Homo sapiens: one gene and its partners. The protein of the gene in region 2 purifies or fractionates together with the protein of the main gene of each other region. This does not show direct contact. Each region holds a gene or a part of one and is shown on either strand. Other genes may lie near its edges.

Region 1 (7,087 bases), on a different chromosome or scaffold from region 2:
CAATGGTGCAATCTCAGCTCACTGCAACCTCCACCTCCCGGGTTCAAGCAATTCTCCTGCCTCAGCCTCCCAAGTAGCTGAGATTACAGGCATCTGCCACCACACTCGGCTAATTTTTTTGTATTTTTAGTAGAGATGGGGTTTCACCATGTTGGCCAGGCTGGTCTCAAACTCCTGACCTCAGGTGATCCGCCCGCCTCGGTCTCCCAAAGTGCTGGGATTACAGGCGTGAGCTACCACGCCCGGCCAATGGGCACACTTTCTTACACGTATTTCTCCTGACTCATCTTCATAAATGACAAACCCATTGTTTAACACCATGTAAAAGACAGGATAAGGTATGTTAAAAACATAGAAATACTACCATAGTTGGTGAAAGTCAACATAACCATTCCTATATTACAAAAGGAAAACAAACCTGACCCACAAAATAAACATACCTACAAACTTACAGCCATTCTTCATGATTTAAGGAATTACTAAAAGTTCTGCTTATTAGGCCGCATTCCAATGGACAAAACTACCTAGGTATGTTAAGTTTGCAGCAGAATATCCCAGTAAGTACTGCATTCAACTATCATAACCTTGCTCTAAACCAGAGCTTAATAGTTTCACGAGAATTTAAAATTTTAAGTAATGGTATTTTGCCTATAGCTGCATGATTGTGTTACCTTGCTATTCAGTAACTATTTTTCTGAATGATATCAGGAGGGTGATAAAAGGAAATAAATTATTATTAAAAAGTGTACAGGTCTGAGACATTAGAAAACTTTGATTTGTACTTTTGCTACTACCCACCACAACCACTTTCCTCTAAACCTTGTTTTCCTCCTTTTTAAAATAAAGGGCTGAATTACCTGTAAAATGTTTCTCACCTTTGAGAAGAATCATACAATTGAATGATTCTAAGTACCATAACAAATTTTATTAGGGATAAGGACCCCATTACATCTTTCTCTTCCTTGTTTCAAATGCCGCCAGAGCAACACACTATCCTAAACATCCAAGTAGGCCAATATAAGTCTATCAATACAAACCTATTCTCAGAATCCAACAGGCTAAAAGGGAATAAAAACAAGGACTGGCATATTTTTGTCATACATACTTCAGCACTTAATATCTCTACCTATACAACTTCATCCAGTCTGAGATAAAAGAGAATCTGGTCTTCTACAAATAGACATGTGTCAAATCCTTTAAAAGGTACTTCTCTATTTCAACAGAGACCAGGATTCAATAATTCCAATTTTCGGAAAACCAGACTTGCATCAAAATAAGTTCCATGTTTGTGGAAGAGAATAAATAGTAAGTGGTACTTTTAGATGAATCACTTGGTCTCCTCTTAGAACTAAGTTTAAAATCAGCCTTTAAAGCTGTTTTCCCTCTGCTGATAAAGATTTCCCTCTCCAAATAAAGATTTTTCTAGATTCTATTTCAGGAAGGAGACAAGAGAGTGGTAAAACAGCTAATAACTAGTAAAGCTAACTCTCAGTTGGTTGTCAGTATGGTATGTTTTACTGAGCCTTTGGGTTGTAAGGGCTTCTGTGAGGAATAAGGTCCTGCAACGCCGCCTGTCTGTGGACCCAGGAAAAATTATAAAGTTATTATGAAACCAGATCACTAGGACAAACCGAGAGGCCTTCCTATTCCAACTCACCACAACCAGGCCTGGCTCCAAAGCCTACCCTTTGGCTGTCCCATATTACGGGACAACAGGTCCTAGCTTAATTCTAACTCACTAAGGAAACATTCGAAGGCATGTATGTATGTACGTGTAAGGATCAAATATATTTTTCATCCACTTACAAATGTATATGGTCATTTGTAATTATTTAAAGTTACTGATAAATTTATACAAATACAGCATCAGTTCATCGAAAATCCCTGGGAGATCGAGGAAATGAAGTTACTTCAGCAGCCAGGATAGTTACGAAAAACCCTGCAGAACAGTATGGAAAAGTACAGCTTCTCACGTGTCCCTCACATACACAAACACTTAGCTCTGAGTCCATTACAACCTTACGTCCCCCCTCAAACTGCTCCCCTCCACCTCACAACTGGGAGAAGTTGATCAACCTCCTAGTTGGTCCCCAAGAGACTCATTTACCCATTATTTTACTCCTCCCGCTTTGATCCCGATCCCGCCTCAGACTAAGGTGGCCCTACTGGCCCCAGGCAGACCACCCCCCCACCCCCCGGCGTGCAAACAGGGAATCTAACCAATTCCCTCCATCCTTAACCAAGTGAGCCATCCCATGATAACAGGCTGTTCACCAACTCTGTGAACTCCGTGGTCCTCCCACCCCCACGTGTCAGCTACCCTCCCCCACATTCCCACACCTCACGATTTAGGCCGAGGGAAGAAAGGGGGCAGTCGAAAGCCTGGCCCCTAAGAGATCAACCCACTGGAATCTGTCCCACTCCAAATCCCCTCCCACCTTCGGCCCCTATCCCTTACAGTCCCTTCCTCCCTCCTTCCTTTGAAACCAGGCCCTTGCCTCAGAAACCTCCTCTTCCTCGTCGTCGTCGTCCTCTTCTTCCTCGCTGTTGTTACTGCTGGTGCCGCCGCCGCCACCTCCGCCTCCACCGCCGCCTCCACCGCCGCCGCTGTTGTCGCTGTCGCTGCTGCTTTCGCTGCTGCTGGGGGGTCGGCAAGTCCGGTTACGCTTGGCCTTGTGGTGCTGCTGCTGCGGCGGCTTCTTCTTCAGGAGCAGGTCGCAGACTCGCACCATCCCACGAGGAGACGAGGCCGAGCGAGCTCTGCTGCTGCCGCCAACGCCGCCGCCGACCTCCGCCGCCGCGGGGGGGCCCGCCACAGCCGCCACCGCCGGGGGGCTCCCTTCTCCTTCTGCAGCCGTCGCCGCCGCCACCGGAACCGTCGCCTTCTCCATCCCCAGGGAAAGAGGGAGGGCGCGGACGGGGGAGGGGCGTGGGGCTACGCTCTACCGCGACTTCGGCCGCACTGGGGCCGACACAGCAATCGGTGCCGCCTCCGCCGCCACCGCCTCGGTCACCTCTACTGCCGCCGCCGCCGCCGCCGCTCCGCCAGCTCTCACCTCGTCTCGCGATACTAAGGGCGGGGAGCCTGACGATGGGAGGGAGGGAGGGAGGGAGAGGGAGGGAGCAAGGGAAGGAGGGTGAGGCGTAACAGGGAGACCGGGTGTCGGGAGAACCAGAGGAGAGGAGACTGGAAAGAAGCGGGGAAGTGTGCCTGGGGCAGCTTCCGAAGGGGAACGGCGGGGACAGATGAGGGGGGCGCGATTGCAACCAGAGCGCCCGCGAGCTCCCGGATTTCTTCTCTTTCCTCGCTATTTCCCGCACACACAGCCCTGCAGCCCTCCCTTCTTCCTTCCTGGCTTGTGATTAGAACGCAGCCGCAGGCGGAAGTGCAGTGACGCCATCAGCCGTCGCCTGAGCCGTGGCGCGCGGGTGGCCGAAAGGCGAAAGTGAGATTTCAAGGGCCGGGTCTGGGGCCCCGCGGGCGCGCAGTGCTGCGGCGTGTGGGGAGTACGGGGAGGCTGGAGAGGAGCCGGCCCCGGGCAGTGTGAGGTGCGGAAGCGCGGTCCAGACACTTTGCTGACGGGAGGCCGGTCCGCCAGATCCGGGAGGTGGGGCCTCGTTCTGGACTGCTGTACGTAGTTTTATTCCTGGTCATTTTTTTCCACCGCCAAATCGAGAGATAGAGCTTTGGATCATGAGAGATGGCGTCGTGTTGGGAAAAGAGCCTTCTTTACCTGAGTTTAAGCTCGGCTCATAGACATCCTCTACCTGAGTTTACACGTGTGTAATATGAAGGCAGTCGATTAGGAGATGTCTAAGATCATTACTTACACCTCAAGTTTCCAAGGGGAGGAAGACACGGGAAGGATGCGTGGTCTGTGCCAGACTTTGTAGACGATTCACTGAATGACCCTGATTTAGCTCTTCCGGCCCTCTTCGATTCAGCTTGGAAGCAAGCATAAATAGTGATTGTTGTCTGTATACTTCTCTCGGAAGGAATGCTGTTATGGGAGTTGTGGGTTCATTTTTAGGTGTCTGAAGAAGTTTCAGGACTTTTGAAATGATAGTGGAGCCCATTGAACTCAGAATTATCCCTTTCTGGTCTAGTAGGAGTATAGTGGCATACGGAAAATGAAGCAAACATCAAAGACAGATGTACTGGCACAAGATTAAAAGTATGTCTCAGCTGACATAGTTGCCATTTTAAGACTGCTTAGTTTAGCTGAATATGCCTGGATTTTTTTTTTTTTTAGCATTTTTTTTCTTTTTAGCATTGGCATACCATATGAAATGTGGGCAGTTGCCAGTACTCTACAGAGTACCAAGGCAGAATTGGCAATGACTAAATCAATTCATTCAAACAAAAATTCATCATGTGCCTACTGTGCGCATAATTTGTGGAATCAAAGTCTCTTGTTTCCAGGGGCTTTACAGTGTAATAAGTGCTATAGTAAATATATATACGGAGTGGTAACCATCTGCCTATTCCTCTCCTACAGTCGTTGCTGAGTTCCAGTGTAGAACAGAGCACTGCATTGTGTATCTCACCACTACTGATTTAGATTTTATAATTTCAGCTGCATCCCTCCCTCCTACTTTGTATATTCTTCAGCATCTTTTTCTCCCTTTCCACTTGAATACTTTTCGCAATCTTTAAATCCCAGCCCATTTTATTATATGACTTTTAACTTAGACTTCACAATTTTCCAAGTGCTAGAAATTTCCTGAGATTGCCTTTTCTCCAGTATCAACGAATGAGAGACTCCCTGTTCATATATGAGATAAACTCTTCATACATATTCTAGTTCCAATACCCCTCTTTCTCATGCATTTATTATCTTTTCTGTTGTCAACCTTCTACAAATTCTGGTTCCTTAGCTAATTCTTCTGTAGCTTTCAATTATTTCCTTCACAAGCAAACTTTCTTTCTTTAAAAAGTATTCTATACTCAGGAGGCTGAAGCAGGAGAATCGCTTGAACCTGCGAGGCGGAGTTTGCAGTGAGCTGAGATCCTGCTACTGCACTCTAGCTTGGGCGACAGAGCGAGACTCCATCTCAAAAAAAAAGTGTCTACAATCAGTGTCTTTTTTGTTTTCTGAAATTGACTTGTCAGCCCTCTGCAGTCTAGTCTCTGTGTCTATCGTGCTGTGCTACCAAAAATGCTCTCTTTAAAGTAATCTCATTGTTTGGAAGAAAATGAGTTTTTTGTTCTTTAATATAATAGTGAAATGATGATCCTGTTTCACTAGTAGGATAAGGTTCAAAACTATTAAAATGGACAAGGCATGTAAAGTCACTTTCTTTTATTTTTATCTTTTTTTCCCCCCGTTAGAACCTCTGGCAGGGACTGACTAGCCCATGAAACTTATTTCTTCTTCCCGGGCACACAGCTAAACTAAATTTCACAGCTTTCCTTGTAGTTGGTTATAGTCATGTGATGAACTTCTTTTTTTGAGACAGAGTTTAGCTCTTGTTGCTCAGGCTGGAATGCAATGGCACAATCTCAGCTCACCGCAACCTCCGCCTCCCGTGTTCAAGCGATTCTCCTGCCTCAGCCTCCCAAGTAGCTGGGATTACAGGCATGTGCCATCACACCCGGCTAATTTTGTATTTTTAGTAGAGACACGGTTTCTCCATGTTGGTCAGGCTGGTCTCGAACTCCCGACCTCAGGTGATTCCCCCACCTCGGCTTTCAAAGTGCTGGGATTACGGGCGTGAGCCACCGAGCCTGGCCGTGATTAACTTCTAGCCAATTAAATATGAATGGAAATGATGTGCTCATTTTTAGGGTTAATGAAGTCCTCCTATTCTCCCTTACTCTTTCTTCGTCAACTTGATGCCTTTGAGCATGGTGACCTTCAAAACTATGTATTGGAGATGCCAAAGCCAGAAAAGAGAAGAATGAGTGGCTGAAACAGTACTTGGAAGACAGCCACCCCAATTAGAAACACCCCTTTTTGCACTTACTGTAAGAGAAAAAATTGAGATTTGAGAATTTATATGTATAGGAGCTAGAATGACCATAGCTAGTCCAGAAATTGGTACAAGAAGTGGAGTACTGCTAAAACAATAACCTAAAATATGTTACATCAGCTTATTTATGATGCAGCAGGTGGTAGAGAATGTGATTTGGAGGCTAGAAAAAGGAGGCCCATGTTTGCAGTGGCAAAGTAATTAGTAAAACTGTCACCTGAAATAATTCAAAATCAGATCACCTATCTGTTTAGATTAGCTCCAGAGGAAATGATTGAAAAGAGCAAAAGTAATACTGTGTTGAATTTTACATTTTACTTTTAGTAAGGTTTTACTAAAGAGAGAAACTCAGGAAATACTTCACAGAAGTGAGAGTGTACAGGAATATTTCTCAGGAAGGGTTGGAAAAGTTGACTTTTATAAGACTTCTAATAAAAAAAAAAAAAAAACTAGAAGAGGTCTTGAGTATAGTTACCCTTGAGATTAAGTCCTGCAACAAAGATCAGGAAAAGGGTTTGGTCTTTCCATTCAAAGTCATTATTTTAGATGGCTTCAAGATAGCTACGATAAAGGTCTAAAGGAACTGGCATAGGAGCAAGGCAGCAAAGCAGTAAATTAGGCTTGATAATTATGTAAGAAAGAACTTTGGGTGTAGTTACCAGAAGCAAATCAATCAGAAGACTACATTTTTAGAGGAATTTTATTAATCATACTAAATCTGGCTCAAATATCATTGTTCGGGTGTTAAAACAGAGGGTAACTGTCCAACCCCAAGCTTGCATAAGTAGAAAAATAGAGCATAAAACCTTAACAGCTCCCCAGTACCCACACAGGATGTGGCCATGGAGAATGATGGACAAAAAAAGAACATTTCAGAAGCTCGTATAAGGAGCTGTACTAAAGACTGGACAGGGAGTTTCTCCTGAAGACTAGAATTGGAGTTTCATCAGAACTTTCTTCAGTTTCAAGGAGATGGGCCGCAAAATGTTTATGCAGTATTTCATCATTATTATACATGAATAGTATTGCTCAGTATCACATTTTTTTTCTGAATGAGAGAATGTATTATAGTTATCTGTCCCTGAGTTACCACTATATATTGGGTTTGCAGGGA
Region 2 (6,065 bases):
TTCCTTCTGGAAGGGTTAAGGCCCCCCTATATACATTTCCAGAGAGTGGGGAGGGGTGGAGTTCAGAAGTAAGTGCACATATCTCTGATTCTGCTCCCTGAAGTTCAGCCCCTTTCACCTTTTTAAGATTTTTGGCATGAAGGTGTCAGTTATTTCTGTACCACATTTCCCAACAAATAAATATTTAAGCAAATATCTAAACATAAAATAACCCATTTTTACTTCCTTCTTAGACCCATTTCTTTGGAGGTGGGGCCACTGGGAGCAAAATATATATTTTTTAATCACATGAAATTCCATAGACAACCCAGAAAGTCCAGAAATCCTGACCCAGCTCTCTGGCTTCCACTGAAAGCACCTAGCACAGGGGTGGCCAACCTTCTGCCTCAACTCCCCCACATTATTAAGCCACAAAGCACCCTGGAGGGGTGGAGTGGGGGAGAATGTCCAAATTCACAGTGGGATAAAGCATCCAACCTTCATTTGCAAATTCAAAATCCAAGAGCGGTGATTTTCATAAGTTTAATGACTCGCCAAGATTTTATGTTCTCAGTAGCTCCTGCCATATAATATACTTAGAGAGAGAATCCCGCCCCCCCTCCCATCCCCATCCCGCTCTAGGGAGGGGGCTGCCCTCGGGCAGGATGCTAACCTAGTCCGAGGGCGGCCTGCTTGTCCCAGGTCCACCCCACAGTACCTTAGAGCCCAGCGAGGTGACAGCAGGCCCGGCCTGCCCCCGCAGCTTCGGCTCAGCCTGGTGCGCAGGGAGAGATGGGCCCAGGGTCCCCACTTCTATAAGGTCGTCAGGTCCGTGTGGTGGTCTTTGGCCATCGGCTGTAAATGCTGGCTGGGGGCGACTGAGGAGGAGCAAGATGAGGAGGAAGATGAGGACGATGACCTGCCTTTAGTGTTGGGCAGCTTATGATCTTTTTTCCACTTCATCCTCCGGTTCTGGAACCAGATCTTGATCTGGCGCTCCGACAGACACAGGGTGTGAGCGATTTCAATCCGACGGCGCCTTGTCAGATACCTGTTAAAATGAAATTCTTTTTCCAGTTCTAGGACTTGCTGCCGGGTGTAGGCCGTTCGGGACCGCTTGGGTTCCCCACCGGTGTAGTTGGGGTTCACTGCGAGACAAAACAGACAGGACAGGCAGGTCAGCGCCCGGCCACTAGTTAGGCCCCTCGCCTCCGCCGCTCACTTCCTGGCGCGCCCCGAGGCCCGCGGCCCTCCCCGCGCGCTCCCAAGCTCGCTTGCTTCCTCCCTCCCGCCCTCTCCCCGGCGCACACGCTCACTCCCACCCACCTCCTCAAACACACCCACATACCCCAGGCTTGCGGGATCCCCAAATGTGCTCCTTCTTCTGGGCCCACCACCAGGTCCGGAACCCTCAAGCATTTTGGAAATCCCCCGCTCCTCCACAGCCTTCCCCCTGCTCTGAAAATGGAGTCCTCCCCCACCCCCCCATCCCCACCCCCTTTTGCGCCCACAGCCGAGCAGCCAGCCACATGGTCCTGACCTGCTCCCTCAGCTATAAAAATTTATGGGGAGAGTAATTGCGGCGCCCATGGAAGCTCCACACGCCCCCACCTACTCGCACCCCCTTCCAGAGGACCCAGGCTAACGGGCTGGGATGTGGACAGAAAGGTTACTGGACCCTAGCCTTACCCGAATTCACGTGCACCTTCTTCATCCAGGGGTAGACCACGGCCGGCTGCTTGAGTGCCGTCCCGGAGGGCGGCTGCTTGGGGTCGGACTGACTGTAGGCCCGGGCGCCAGGCAGGGGCGCCGGCGGAGGCGCCGGGGGAGCTGGGCAAGGCTCTCCTGGAGCGGCGTAGTGACCGCCGGGGCCGCCTGGCTCTTGTCCGTGACCCCGCGCAGGCAGCGCCGAGCCAGGCCCGGGGCCGCTGCCTCCGAAAGGCTGCTCACCGAAGTCGGGCCGTGGGTAGAGCCCCGGGGGCTGGAAGTCTGCGCCCTGCGCGCCGCCGCCGTAGTAGTCGGCGCCCTGCTCGCCTAGGTAGCCGCCCTGCAAATACTCCTCGCACGGAGGGAACTTGGGGTCCACATACTTGGAGTTCACCATATACGAACTCATGACCATTAATTTCAGAAGGTAGAAAATACTAATTTTTCTCGTGTTGTCTTTTTTTCTCCTTCCATAGGGCCCTCCTACTTGCTGTCAACTGAATAAAGTTGGGCAGCCATGTGACCAGGCCAGCCAATGGCGAGGGAGCAAGTTTATCACCGGGTTGGTGAGCATCTCATAATTTTCACAAATTTAACTAAATAACATACGTGTAATCAAGTAGCTTGCTATGGCACATTTGAGAGCCCCTGCCAGATATTAATGTAGTTCCAGTCCCCAGCACCCCATTCCCCTCAGGTAATCCCAGCTTTTGTCTGCCACTGATTTTGCCAACCTTCCGTGGCCCTTCCACTCACCCCCAGCTGAATGCAACCCCCGCCCCCCGACACCAAGTAGGCACAGCTCAAGGGAGAATGAATCCTCCTATTGGGGTACAGAGCAATGAAAGGTGGGTGGGTGAACTCGCCTCTGAGTTGGGCAGAGTGCCCCAGGCGAGGAGGGTTCCTGCCTGCCCGCCCTGCCTGCAGCCGGCGGGAGCAGGGATTCTGCCATACAAAGGCCGCCGTCCTGGCTTTGTCTTCATCAGGGTCACCCAAAAGTTACCAGAATCTGGCCAGCTTGAATCAAATTAGGCAATGAGTAACCGCCATGCTTTCTACCAGTGCCCAGGCCCGGGGGTTCCCAGCCAAAGCTGGGCCCTGCCAAAATAGCAGGGGGCCCTCGCTGCCCTTGCCCATGTAGCTGGGGGTGGGCTGGGATGGTGGCAAGGGCACCTCCACCTTGTCAAAATGCACCCTAGAGCTCCCCACTGGGCTTCTTTGAAGCTTGCTTTCTTCCCACAGGCCCCAAATACAAGCAAGCCCCCATTTGGGTACCTTTGCACCTCATGTTCCTGGAGGGCAGAGCTGGGACTGGGCAAGCTGGCCTTGTACCTCACTCCCTAGTACCCCAAAACCTAGCCCTTTGGCCCTGCATCCATGCAACCAATTAGGCTTGCATTCTCTCTTTCTCTCTCTCTCTCTCTTTCTCTCTTTCTGTCTTTCTTTCTTTTCAGCACCCAGAGGATACTCTGTTTAAAGGTGAGGAGCTTCTGGAGAGGAAAAGCTGCTCTATGTCACCAGGCGCAGCTGATCCTCCTGGAGTCCAAGGTAATAAAACAGAACGAGGCGGCTGACCAGCGCCGGCTGCTTCTAGTCTCCATGTCGCACTTTGGTCTCTGGCTATTCCGAAGAAACGTGAAGTTTTTGCATCGACCATATATTCCCCTAGAATCGAATCTGTGACTATACGGATACCACACAAATTCGGTTCTACAGGGTATATATAGACAACGTTACAACCTCTGGGTCCCACCCAGAGTGAGGTACCTAGGTCGCTGCCGGCCCCAATCTCTTCCTCTGAGCCACCACCGTTCGACGCAGCCACCCGCACTTTCTGAGACAGTTCAGGTAGCCTAATGGGCTTGGCGACAATTTGAAGCAATGAGTTCCCTCATTCTTCTGCCAGGGTCAGGGTTACCAAGCAGGCGAACAACCAGAATATTCTTCTTAAGAAAGAAAAAAAGAAAGAAAGAAAGAAAAATAATCCATCCCAAGGATGGCGGCTTTATTAACCACCCTCCCCCACCAGGATCCAAATAACCCTCCTCCTTACCAAGTGGTATTTTCCAGAAAGGAACAAATGCCCTCAGCGGCAGAAGAAAAAGAAGCGAGAGGGGAATATCCTGTGTCTACTCCTTTTCCTACTGCCCGACCAAGCCAGGTTGTCTGCCAAAGCTACTTCTCCAAGAAGTCGCGCATTTACCTTCATGGGCCCTGATCCGGGCTGGCCTCTCCGTTCCGCTGCTGCTGCAGACCCCGAGGCAGGCGCTGCTCACAGGCACCGAGCCGCCTTGGGCTGAGGCCGGCGCGCTAATGGTGAAGGGCAGGGCGAGGGGTCATTCGAAATCATTTACAAACATATCACAAACTTTCATTATTTTTGCTTTGCCGACAGCAGCACACAAGAGTACAAAAGTTCACAAATTTCACCCGCCCCAGCGCCTCGGCACTGTGCAGTGCTTGTCCCTCAGTTCAGGGCATGGAGAGCGCAGACTCACTCAGAGCCTCGATGGATTTCAGGGGCACAGGGATGCCCTGGCTCGAGTGGGGCTTTTGGGTGCCTAACTGTAGGCTGAAGGTGTTAGATTTTTTTTTAACTGTCTTGATTGCCCTTCCTACCTCCCACATAATTCAAAATTTAGTTTCAAGCCTGGGCCTGGGCCTGGTGGGGTGGGGCAGGGATACTCCCCCTCCAAGCCTGGCACTTTGCTCATCCCCCCATCCTTTGCTTCCACCACTTTACCTGTTTCGTAGGGATTTTGGGGGCGCCAGTTCTAACAAGGGCTATGAGGCTGCAGAATCTGTTTATCCCAGGAGAGTCCCCCCAATTTCCCTGAATGCCAAAGACTCCCAAGTATCCACCTTCCTGGGACACTGGGCCTAGGCTCTATCCAGACAAATTGGGGGAGCCTGCTGAGCCGGCTGGAGACCGGGGTGAATATACACATTTTCATATTTGTTAGACGCTGTGACCTGCATTTCACCTTATTGCTCGACTTGTTCAGACAGGTCAAAGCCAACGAGTTATTGATGAACAAAAGCGTTAAATATTCACCTCCCGCTCAACTGCCCATACTAATGCTTTTGATCTCTAGGGCTTTTTGTGCTGTGTTCAGCTACAGGGCGCTGAATGTGGGTTTGCTAGCGAGAAGCTTCTGCAGAGATAAGCACCCAGAGCCAGTGCAGGGGAGGAGAGAAGCAAGACCAGAGGTCCCCAGGACACCAGATTTTCCAGACTGGAGCCCAGAGCCCCTTTCACTTGAGCCAGCCTGGTGTATAGGGGTAGTTGCTCTTCTAGGGGTGTGCACAGTCTACAAAGGGTCGACTAGACTGCCCAGCCCAGCGGGGCCAAAAAACCTGTCTCTGAGGCCAGCCCCAGCTTTTCCAACCAAGAAGGAGGGAGACTGGTTCCTGCAGCCCTCACATATTCCAACTCCCATTAAAATAAAATCACTTCCGTTTTGCAGTGAGGGAGGGGCCACAGTTCTTTCTGTGACTCTCCCTCCAATACCATCGTCTTAATGAGATGGTCCTCCAGGAGGCTTCACAGGCCTAATCAGAAATGTACCTGTCTTTCGCGGCACAGGCAACTCAGAAAGATCCAAACATCCAAGCCAAGGATCCCACGAGTCTCTGGCCCCACCCCACCGCATCCACCCCACTCCACCCTCCTATGCCTCCTTGCAGCACCAGCGCCTCTGGGGCGGAAATTCTCCAACTGCAGTTACAGAGAAGCAGAGGTGAAAAGAAGGTCCGTATCCCTCCTCGCTCAGCCAGTGTCCCAAGCCCAGGGCCCACACCGCTGCAAACAGATCGGGGGAGGGGCGGGGAAGGAATGTCCACATAAAGCTCAGAAGCGGGCAACTCAACACACCCACGGCCACAGAGGATTGAGTTTTTGTTTTCAGTGAATTTTTTTAAAAACAGAAGGTTGGCCAGGCTAGACCAGGTTAAGAAGGGTTGGGCTGCGGAGGGGACCGCATTGCCTTGGTGTTTACTGCGTTGGTTTGAAGCCGCTAATAAGACAGGCTGCTAATTAGCAAGCTCTTAACAGAAGTGAGCGCCTTGGCGGAGCTGCACCTGTGCAGAGCAGGGAAGGGCCGCGAAGGTCTAGGGAGGCCCAAGGAGACAAGGGCGAGACCCCGCGGACCGTTCTCTCAGGCAGGTGTCTGTGAACCAGGCCCCAGAAAAGCTTTCCGGGACCTCGATTTAGCGCCTCCACCTCCCGAAGCGGGCTAACCTCGCAGAGCGAGGCCGGGGGTGGAGGGTGGGGGTGGGGTGGGGGAGGCAGGGCCTTTCTTCTATCCGCCCACTCCGCTGGCTTGGCCCCTTAGCCCACCACTTCCCCGCGATCAGTACCGTCTCTTCGCGATTCGGAA
Region 3 (7,660 bases), on a different chromosome or scaffold from region 2:
GGTGTGAGCCACCGTGCCCGGCCATGTGTTTTTTATCCTTCTTGATCTGAAAGATGGTCAAAACACAGTGCTTTGAAACACATTATAAGTAGATTCTAAATAGTCCCACTGGCTTTTTTTTCTTCTTTATTCCATAGAGACTCAAAATTCCCAATGCTTACTATATTTCAAGGCCATGGCAGGTTATTGGGAAAAGTTTTCAATTAGCAATAATGATGCCTTTGGCTATGATACTGCCACTGAGCAAATCTCCACTCCATTTTTTTTCTTGAGACAGAGTCTCGCTCTGTCACCCAGGCTGGAGTGCAATGGCGTGTTCTCAGCTCACTGCAACCTCTGCCTCCCAGATTCAAGCGATTCTCCTGACTCAGCCTCCTGAGTAGCTGGGATTACAGGTGCGTGCCACCACGCCCAGCTAATTTTTGTATTTTTAGTAGAAATGGGGTTTCGCCATGTTGATCAGGCTGGTCTCGAACTCCTGACCTTGTGATCCACCCGCCTCAGCCTCCCAAAGTGCTGGGATTACAGGCATGAGACCCCACACCCAGCCCAATTTTTGTATTTTTAGTAGAGACAGGATTTCACCATGTTGGCCAGGATGGTCTTGAACTCCTGACCTCAAGTGATCCACCCACCTCAGCCTCCCAAAGTGCTGGTATTACAGGCATGAGCCACCATACCTGGCCTGAGTGTGATTTTATTTATTTGTCAAATGTATCACTTGATATTGTGATGATTTATCAATGAGTTTTCAAATTTTAAAACCATAGGAATGTAGTATATATGGAACTATTGAATCACATTTTCTTTCTTTCTTTTTTTTTTTTTTTCGAGACAAAGTTTCACTCATGTTGCCCAGGCTGAAGTGCCGTGGTGTGATCTTGGCTCACTGAAACCTCTGCCTCCCAGGTGCAAGCAATTCTCCCGCCTCAGCCTCCTGAGTAGCTGGGATTATAGGCGCCCACCACCACGCCTGGCTAATTTTTTGTATTTTTAGTAGAGACGGGGTTTCATCATGTTGGCCAGGCTGGTCTGGAACTCCTGACCTCGGGTGATCCACCCACCTTGGCCTCCCAAAGTACTGGGATTACAGGCGTGAGCCACCATGCCCAGCCATTAAATCACATTTAATAGAGATTCTATATAGCAGTCACCAAAATATAGGAGACTAGGAGTTCCTAATTCCCATACTGACTGTCAAACTACTGACAAGTATCTCAAGTAAAGGTCCTGGTGAAACAAAGATTATTGCTCAATCACATTTCTTTAGCTATACTCAGGGTTAGTTGCTAGGCACTGAGTAAAGAGAGTGTTTTCTTCCCTCTCAAATAAATTGAGAAAAATGTATATATATCCAGATTTCCTTTCCCTGTGTCCTTGAGAGTCATTGTATTTGTTTAAAGAATTTAATGAGTTTGTTCAGGGAGTTGCATCAGAAATTATTTTTGTATCAGTAGTAAGCATGACAACTAGTTCCTTTGTAATGCTGTACCAGTCAATACCTGTTTTTGCCTAAGGATGTATCCATACCAATTCTGGATAATCCAGCTTTGAAGTGGGTTGGGCAGTGCCAGGTTTCTTTTGTTGGTGTTATTAGTTTGGGTTGTGACTTAGTCACACATGCCTTGAAAACTTAACAGCACTGAGGATATAGGCTAATTAAGTTCCACAAATGCTAACTAAAGCCAGTGTACATAGCATTTACATTAAAATAGTTCTCTAGAATAGGTACAAGACTTTTTTTTAACATTTTCTACAACTTATTTATTATCTAGAAAGAACATTTAACAAACATGTTCTGCTCATAGAAAACACTATCCTTTACATGTGAAATGTCAAAATGAGCAATTACTAAGCCAAAGAAATGTTTATGATATTCAAAATGTTTTTTAAATAAATGTTTGGCAGAATCAACTTTTAAAGTTATTTTAAAAATCATTATATTCTTATAAAATTTTAAGATCCCAGTTTAAGGATGACGAAATATTAAATATTGCACAGTTGAGATATATAAAGGCCTTTGTTAAAGTTGTAAGAGAGGAGAAAATGACTTTTTTTTTTTTTTTTTGAGACTGAGTCTTGCTCTGTCGCCAGGCTGCAGTGCAGTGGTGCGATCTCGGCTCACTGCAACCTCCGCCTCCTGGGTTCAAGCGATTCTCTTGCCTCAGCCACCCGAGTAGCTGGGATTACAGGCACGCGCCGCCACACTTGGCTAATTTTTGTATTTTTAGTAGAGACGGGGTTTCACCATGTTGGCCAGGATGGTCTCCATCTCCTGACCTCGTGATCCGCTCACCTCTGCCTCCCAAGGTGCTGGGATTACAGGTGTGAGCCACTGCGCCCGGCCATTTTTTTTTTTTTCAGCCAAATTCTGTTATCATATGGACATTCTCTGGGTCAAAGGATATTTTCCATACAAACCACCAGACTCCTTTTTTGGTCATGTCTGATTAAAGGATTAGATAGAAACCGTTTTTTTTTTATTTTTTTAATTTTTTTAGACAGGGCACCGCTCTGTTGCTCAGGCTGGAGTTCAGTGGCACGATCTCGGCTCACTGCAACCTCCATCTCCCAGGCTCAGGGGATCCCTCCCACCTCAGCCTCCTGAGTAGCTGGAATTACAGGCATGCACCACCATGCTCGGCTAATTTTTTTTTTTTTTTTGAGACGATGTGTTGCTCTGTCGCCTAACCTGGAGTGCAGTGGCACGATCTTGGCTCACTGCAAACTTCGCCTCCTGGGTTCAAGTGATTCTCCTGCCTCAGCCTCCCGAGTAGCTGGGATTACAGGCACGCACCATCACATCTGGCTAATTTTTGTATTTTTAGTATAGACGGGGTTTCGCCATGTTGGCCAGGCTGGTCTAGAACTCCTAACCTCAAATGATCCGCCCACCTAGGCCTCCCAAAGTGCTGGGATTAACAGGCGTGAGTCACCGCGCCGAGCCCAATTTTTGTATTTTTGGTAAAGACGGGATTTCACCATGTTGCCTAGGCTGGGCTCGAACTACTGGGTTCAAATGATCCGCCCGCCTCAACATCCCATAGTGTTGGGATTACAGGCGTGAGCCACGGCGCCCGCTATAGAATCTGAATATTTTTAACCCCCCTCTTTACTGACAAGATAAAGACAGAGATAGAGAGATGCATATAGGGAGGAAGAGATCTCCTTAGAGGAGGGAAGACCACCACAGCTAGCCTTGTTTTGCACCACACAGATCTGATTAGAACTAGAATTAGTTGGGCTGGCAGGACCCAGGGGCGAGCAGAGAGTTCCTGAAGGAAGAGGAGACAATAACTAGCAAAAATGAGTCTTTCCTGTAAGTTTGGGACTTTGCTAAGCGCTATATTATCATCTAATTTATTCATAACAACAACCCAATGAGGAAGGTACTAATATTACTCCCATTTCACAGAGGAGCGAGTTGAAAGTCACAAAAATGAAACAGCAAACGCGCCGAAGTCAGGCAGCAAGTAAGTGGCAGCACCAGAACTCGAAACTGCCTCGGAGCATGCACTCTTCACCACCCCGTTCCACCTTGAGGTCGGATTCCGCACGCCGTTCGCGGCATTCCCACCTTCCTACGTGGGACAGTTCCCGGTACTGAGGCATGGCGCTGTCCAGCCCTCAGGCCCGCAGCCGTCCGCAAGCAGGAGAACGCGGCCCCGCTGGGCGATCCTGCCCGAAGGCGCCCGAACTGCGGCGCGCGGCCGGGTCCTGGCGGGCGGGTCGAGTCTCCCCAAGGCGGCCATCCCAAGCAGCTCCCCGGATGTCCCTCAGACCCGCGCGCTAGGCTCAACTCAGAAAGGCGGGAGGCGCGAAGCGAGATCGGCCTTGCCCCTCGACTGTCCCCTCATCGCTCCCCGTCCTCTATTCCCTCCCAAATAGCCCCCGGCAAATAGGTTACACATCTTCACCTGTCCCAGAGGTGGTGACTGCTCTAGTGACTGACGCTACGCTCCTCCAACCAGGCAATGGCAGGAAGGTGGAGCCTTCCTAAGACTGATGGCTTCCTTTCTCCAATCCCGGTGCAGCTATTCTCCGGCCATAGTCTCGGCGCCCAGCGGAGAGCGACAGGTGGGAGCTGCGTTACTTCGGCGCCTCTTGCATCCTTGACGTAGAAGTTTCACCAAGCGCAGGGTGAAGTCTACTCCAAATTTGACCAATTCTTGCGGGTCATCACTTCAGCAGTCATTTTATTCAGAAGTGGAAATTTCCCGGCCCTTTCCCGTCACCTCAGATGAGGGCGGGATCAATGGTACTCCCACAGGCCAATTGTACCACGCGACGTCCCGCGACAAAGTGACCGACACTTTATGGCGCCAATGAATTCTCCCATTGTTCGGGGTCACTATGACTGACCACAAGGCCAACTAATCCACTTTAAGGTCGTGACGCGATAGTCAGGCGGGTTGGCCAATAGACATAGGAAAAGAGCGGAAGTCAGCTGGTGAAGAGTGGGAGGCGGGTGTTCGCAACCGCCTAGGCCTGCGCGGGTCAACGCAGCTTGGCGGCTGCGAGCCAGCGAGCGGCGCGTGACGAAGAGCCTGAGCGACGGGTCACTTTGGCCAATGATCTGCAGCCGCCAGGGTATTGCAGCCAGTGGCGAGTCGAGGGGGCGGGAGGCAGCAGGTTAGGCAGTGAGAAGTTAGTGGCGCTGCTGGGACGGGGGAAAGGAGACGCTTCTTCCTCTTGCTGCTCTTCTCGTTCCCGAGATCAGCGGCGGCGGTGACCGCGAGTGGGTCGGCACCGTCTCCGGCTCCGGGTGCGAACAATGCTGACTGATAGCGGAGGCGGCGGCACCTCCTTTGAGGAGGACCTGGACTCTGTGGCTCCGCGATCCGCCCCAGCTGGGGCCTCGGAGCCGCCTCCGCCGGGAGGGGTCGGTCTGGGGATCCGCACCGTGAGGCTCTTTGGGGAGGCCGGGCCAGCGTCGGGAGTCGGCAGCAGCGGCGGCGGCGGCAGCGGCAGCGGTACGGGCGGAGGGGACGCGGCGCTGGATTTCAAGTTGGCGGCTGCCGTGCTGAGGACCGGGGGTGGAGGTGGTGCCTCTGGCAGTGACGAGGACGAAGTGTCCGAGGTAAGGCTCCGGGACCCTCGCCTCCCACACATTGTGAGGCGTGAATTCTCTTTGGGTAGGCTCTGGGCCGGGGCCATCCTCCCGCTTCCCTGGTGGAGCCCTTCTGTGACAGCGGTCGGCTCCATGGCGGCGGTGGCCGCGGTGAGGGCCTAGTGAGCCCTCGGCTTACTCTTTAGCTCGAGCGGGACAGGTTCCCGTCACCATTCGTAGACCCACAATAGGGAGTCCTTTGGTCTCTGAGCTTCGCGCGGGAACAGGGACTCCTCAGGCTGCCTCCCGCCCACCCTGCTTTGGAGTTGGGGGTGGGGGGCGGGGTCTTGCCAGAGTCCCTGCCCTTGGTACTGAGAGAGACAAACAGAGACAGAGACAGAGCTGGTGCAAAGATCGTTTCTCTTCTTTGCCTCTCCTCAGAGTTGAGGGATACGTTTATTTGCCTTCTGCCTTGTGTGTGTCTTACCTGTGTGCTTAAGGACGGTTCTTATTCTCCCTCTTCAGTTTGAGACAGGTTTGAGTATTAGGGATCTCTCGGCTTTTACCCTGAAAAATCACGTGACTCCTCCTTCTGGGACCTTTTGTGAAGTTAGACAGGAAAAGGAAGTTCCAGGGCATCCCTGAGCTTCGGAATAGCTGGGTAGCTGAACTCGGAGGTTTTAGGCTTGGAGAAAGTGGGGCAACCTGTGGAAACCTCTTCTTTTTTTTTTTTTTTTTTTTTTTTTTGAGATGGAGTTTCGCTCTTGTTGTCCACGCTAGAATACACGTGATCTCAGCTCACTGCAACCTCCGCCTCCCGGGTTCAAGCGATTCTCCTGCCTCAGCCTCCCGAGTAGCTGGGATTACAGGCGTGCGCCACCACGCCCGACTAATTTTGTATTTTTATTAGATACGGGGTTTCACCATGTTGGTCAGGCTGGTCTCGAACTCCTGACCTCAGGTGATCCGCCCGCCTCGGCCTCCCAAAGTGCTGGGATTACAGGTATGAGCCACCGTGCCCGGCTGGACACCTTCACTCTGCCTTTGCAGTGAAGTCCTTCATTTCTTTAACTCTTCTGTGTGTACTCTAATGTGTACACATTTTTAGGTCTGAGCAACCTGGGATGGTAGGCATTAACTTCTTTTGGGTTCTGGGGAAAAAGGGGCGGGTTTTGTTTTTGTTTTTTGAGATGGAGTTTCGCTCTGTCGCCAGGCTGGAGTGCAGTGGCGCGATCTCGGCACACTGCAACCTCCGCCTCCTGGGTTCAAGCGATTCCCCTGCCTTAGCCTCCTGAGTAGCTGGGACTACAGGCGCGTGCCACCACTCCCGGCTAATATTTTGTATTTTTTAGTAAAGACAGGGTTTCACCATGTCCAGGATGGTCTCGATCTCCTGACCTTGTGATCCCAAGGGGCGGTATTTTATGTGTATACTTTTTTCTGTTGACTGTGGCTTGCGTAGAGTACTGTACCGTGATTGTTTTAAGTGCTCAGAGTATTTCTTCTATTTTGGTTCTGAGGTGCCTGAGTTGTCACCTGTGACCAGTTATTTTAACCTCTGGTCTTGGTGTTAAAGTACAGGAATTTCTCTGTGTGTACTAACAATCCCGGCTCTTGGATTTGAGAGGAATAAGGAGAAATTATTTGTGGGTTACAGACTGCAGTTAGTATACTGTCTTATCATTCTAGGTCTGAACAGGGTTTTATTTAATATTTAAAACCTTAGTACATTCTGACCCTAACATTTTGCTTTGGAAAAAAAAGTGTGTGGGTTATAAGGCGGGTAGTCCCTTGAATGTCTACGTCTTTGAATTTCACGGTAAGGGAAATAACTTCTAAGCCAAGGTGAGAGAAATGTTTTATTTGAGTAGGCAGTTATGGGGAGAGACTCTGGAGTATCCCTGCTCTTGGTCTTGTGGAAGGCTTTATTTTATCCTTTCAGTGAAACGTGAGAGATTAAGCTAGAACACAGTACTTTTTAGCTAGGAAATGAAGTGTGGGGGATATCCTTAGACTAAAGATTAGAGCTTATTTTCTATGAAACTTGTAAATGAGAATCTGAAAGAGTTTGCTTTGGTCTAAATGTGATAGAAAAAGGGGACCTTGATTTTCTTGACCATTTTTACATAATTGTCATGGGTGAGATGAAAGGTCACTCATTTGCCTTTTTTTTTAATTTTAATTTTTTGTTTTTTTTGTTTTTTTTGAGACTGTGTCTTGCTCTTGTCACCCAGGCTGGAGTGCGGTGGCTCGATCTTGGCTCACTGCAACCCCCGTCTCCCAGGTTCAAGCTATTTTCCTGCCTCAGCCTCCCTAGTAACTGGGATTCCAGGTGCCTGCTACCACGACTGGCTAATTTTTTTGTATTTTTAGTAGAGACGAGGTTTTACCATGTTGGCCAGGTGGGTCTCAAACTCCTGACCTCAGGTGATCGCCCTCTCAGAGTGCTGGGATTACAGGCATGAGCCACCACGCCCGGCCTTAATTTTTTTTTTTTTTTTGAGACAGGTTTTGCTATGTTGTCCAGGCTAGCCTCAAACTCCTGGGCTCGGGTGGTCCTCCTACCTCAGCCTCCTAAGTAGCTGGGACTATAGGCACACGCTACTGTGC

Evidence for each region. The genes of interacting proteins can lie anywhere in the genome.
Region 1: the proteins of HOXD4 (region 2) and ANKRD17 purify together in Homo sapiens (co-immunoprecipitation; 3 studies listed by BioGRID and IntAct, with this or other methods). This does not show direct contact.
Region 3: the proteins of HOXD4 (region 2) and ANKHD1 purify together in Homo sapiens (affinity purification with mass spectrometry, with the first as the bait; 2 studies listed by BioGRID). This does not show direct contact.

The regions. Positions count from the first base shown.
Region 1 is NC_000004.12:73,255,778-73,262,864, forward strand, and holds the start of ANKRD17 (ankyrin repeat domain-containing protein 17), read right to left. Parts: upstream 3,022-7,087; 5' UTR 2,892-3,021; coding exon 2,499-2,891; intron 1-2,498.
Region 2 is NC_000002.12:176,147,670-176,153,734, reverse strand, and holds HOXD4 (homeobox protein Hox-D4), read right to left. Parts: upstream 2,186-6,065; 5' UTR 2,102-2,185; coding exon 1,669-2,101; intron 1,207-1,668; exon of another isoform or gene 1,128-1,206; coding exon 793-1,127; 3' UTR 509-792; downstream 1-508. UniProt on the Homo sapiens protein: Sequence-specific transcription factor which is part of a developmental regulatory system that provides cells with specific positional identities on the anterior-posterior axis.
Region 3 is NC_000005.10:140,397,194-140,404,853, forward strand, and holds the start of ANKHD1 (ankyrin repeat and KH domain-containing protein 1), read left to right. Parts: upstream 1-4,639; 5' UTR 4,640-4,774; coding exon 4,775-5,080; intron 5,081-7,660. Other genes in the region: ANKHD1-EIF4EBP3 protein, read left to right, coding at 4,775-5,080. UniProt on the Homo sapiens protein: May play a role as a scaffolding protein that may be associated with the abnormal phenotype of leukemia cells. Isoform 2 may possess an antiapoptotic effect and protect cells during normal cell survival through its regulation of caspases.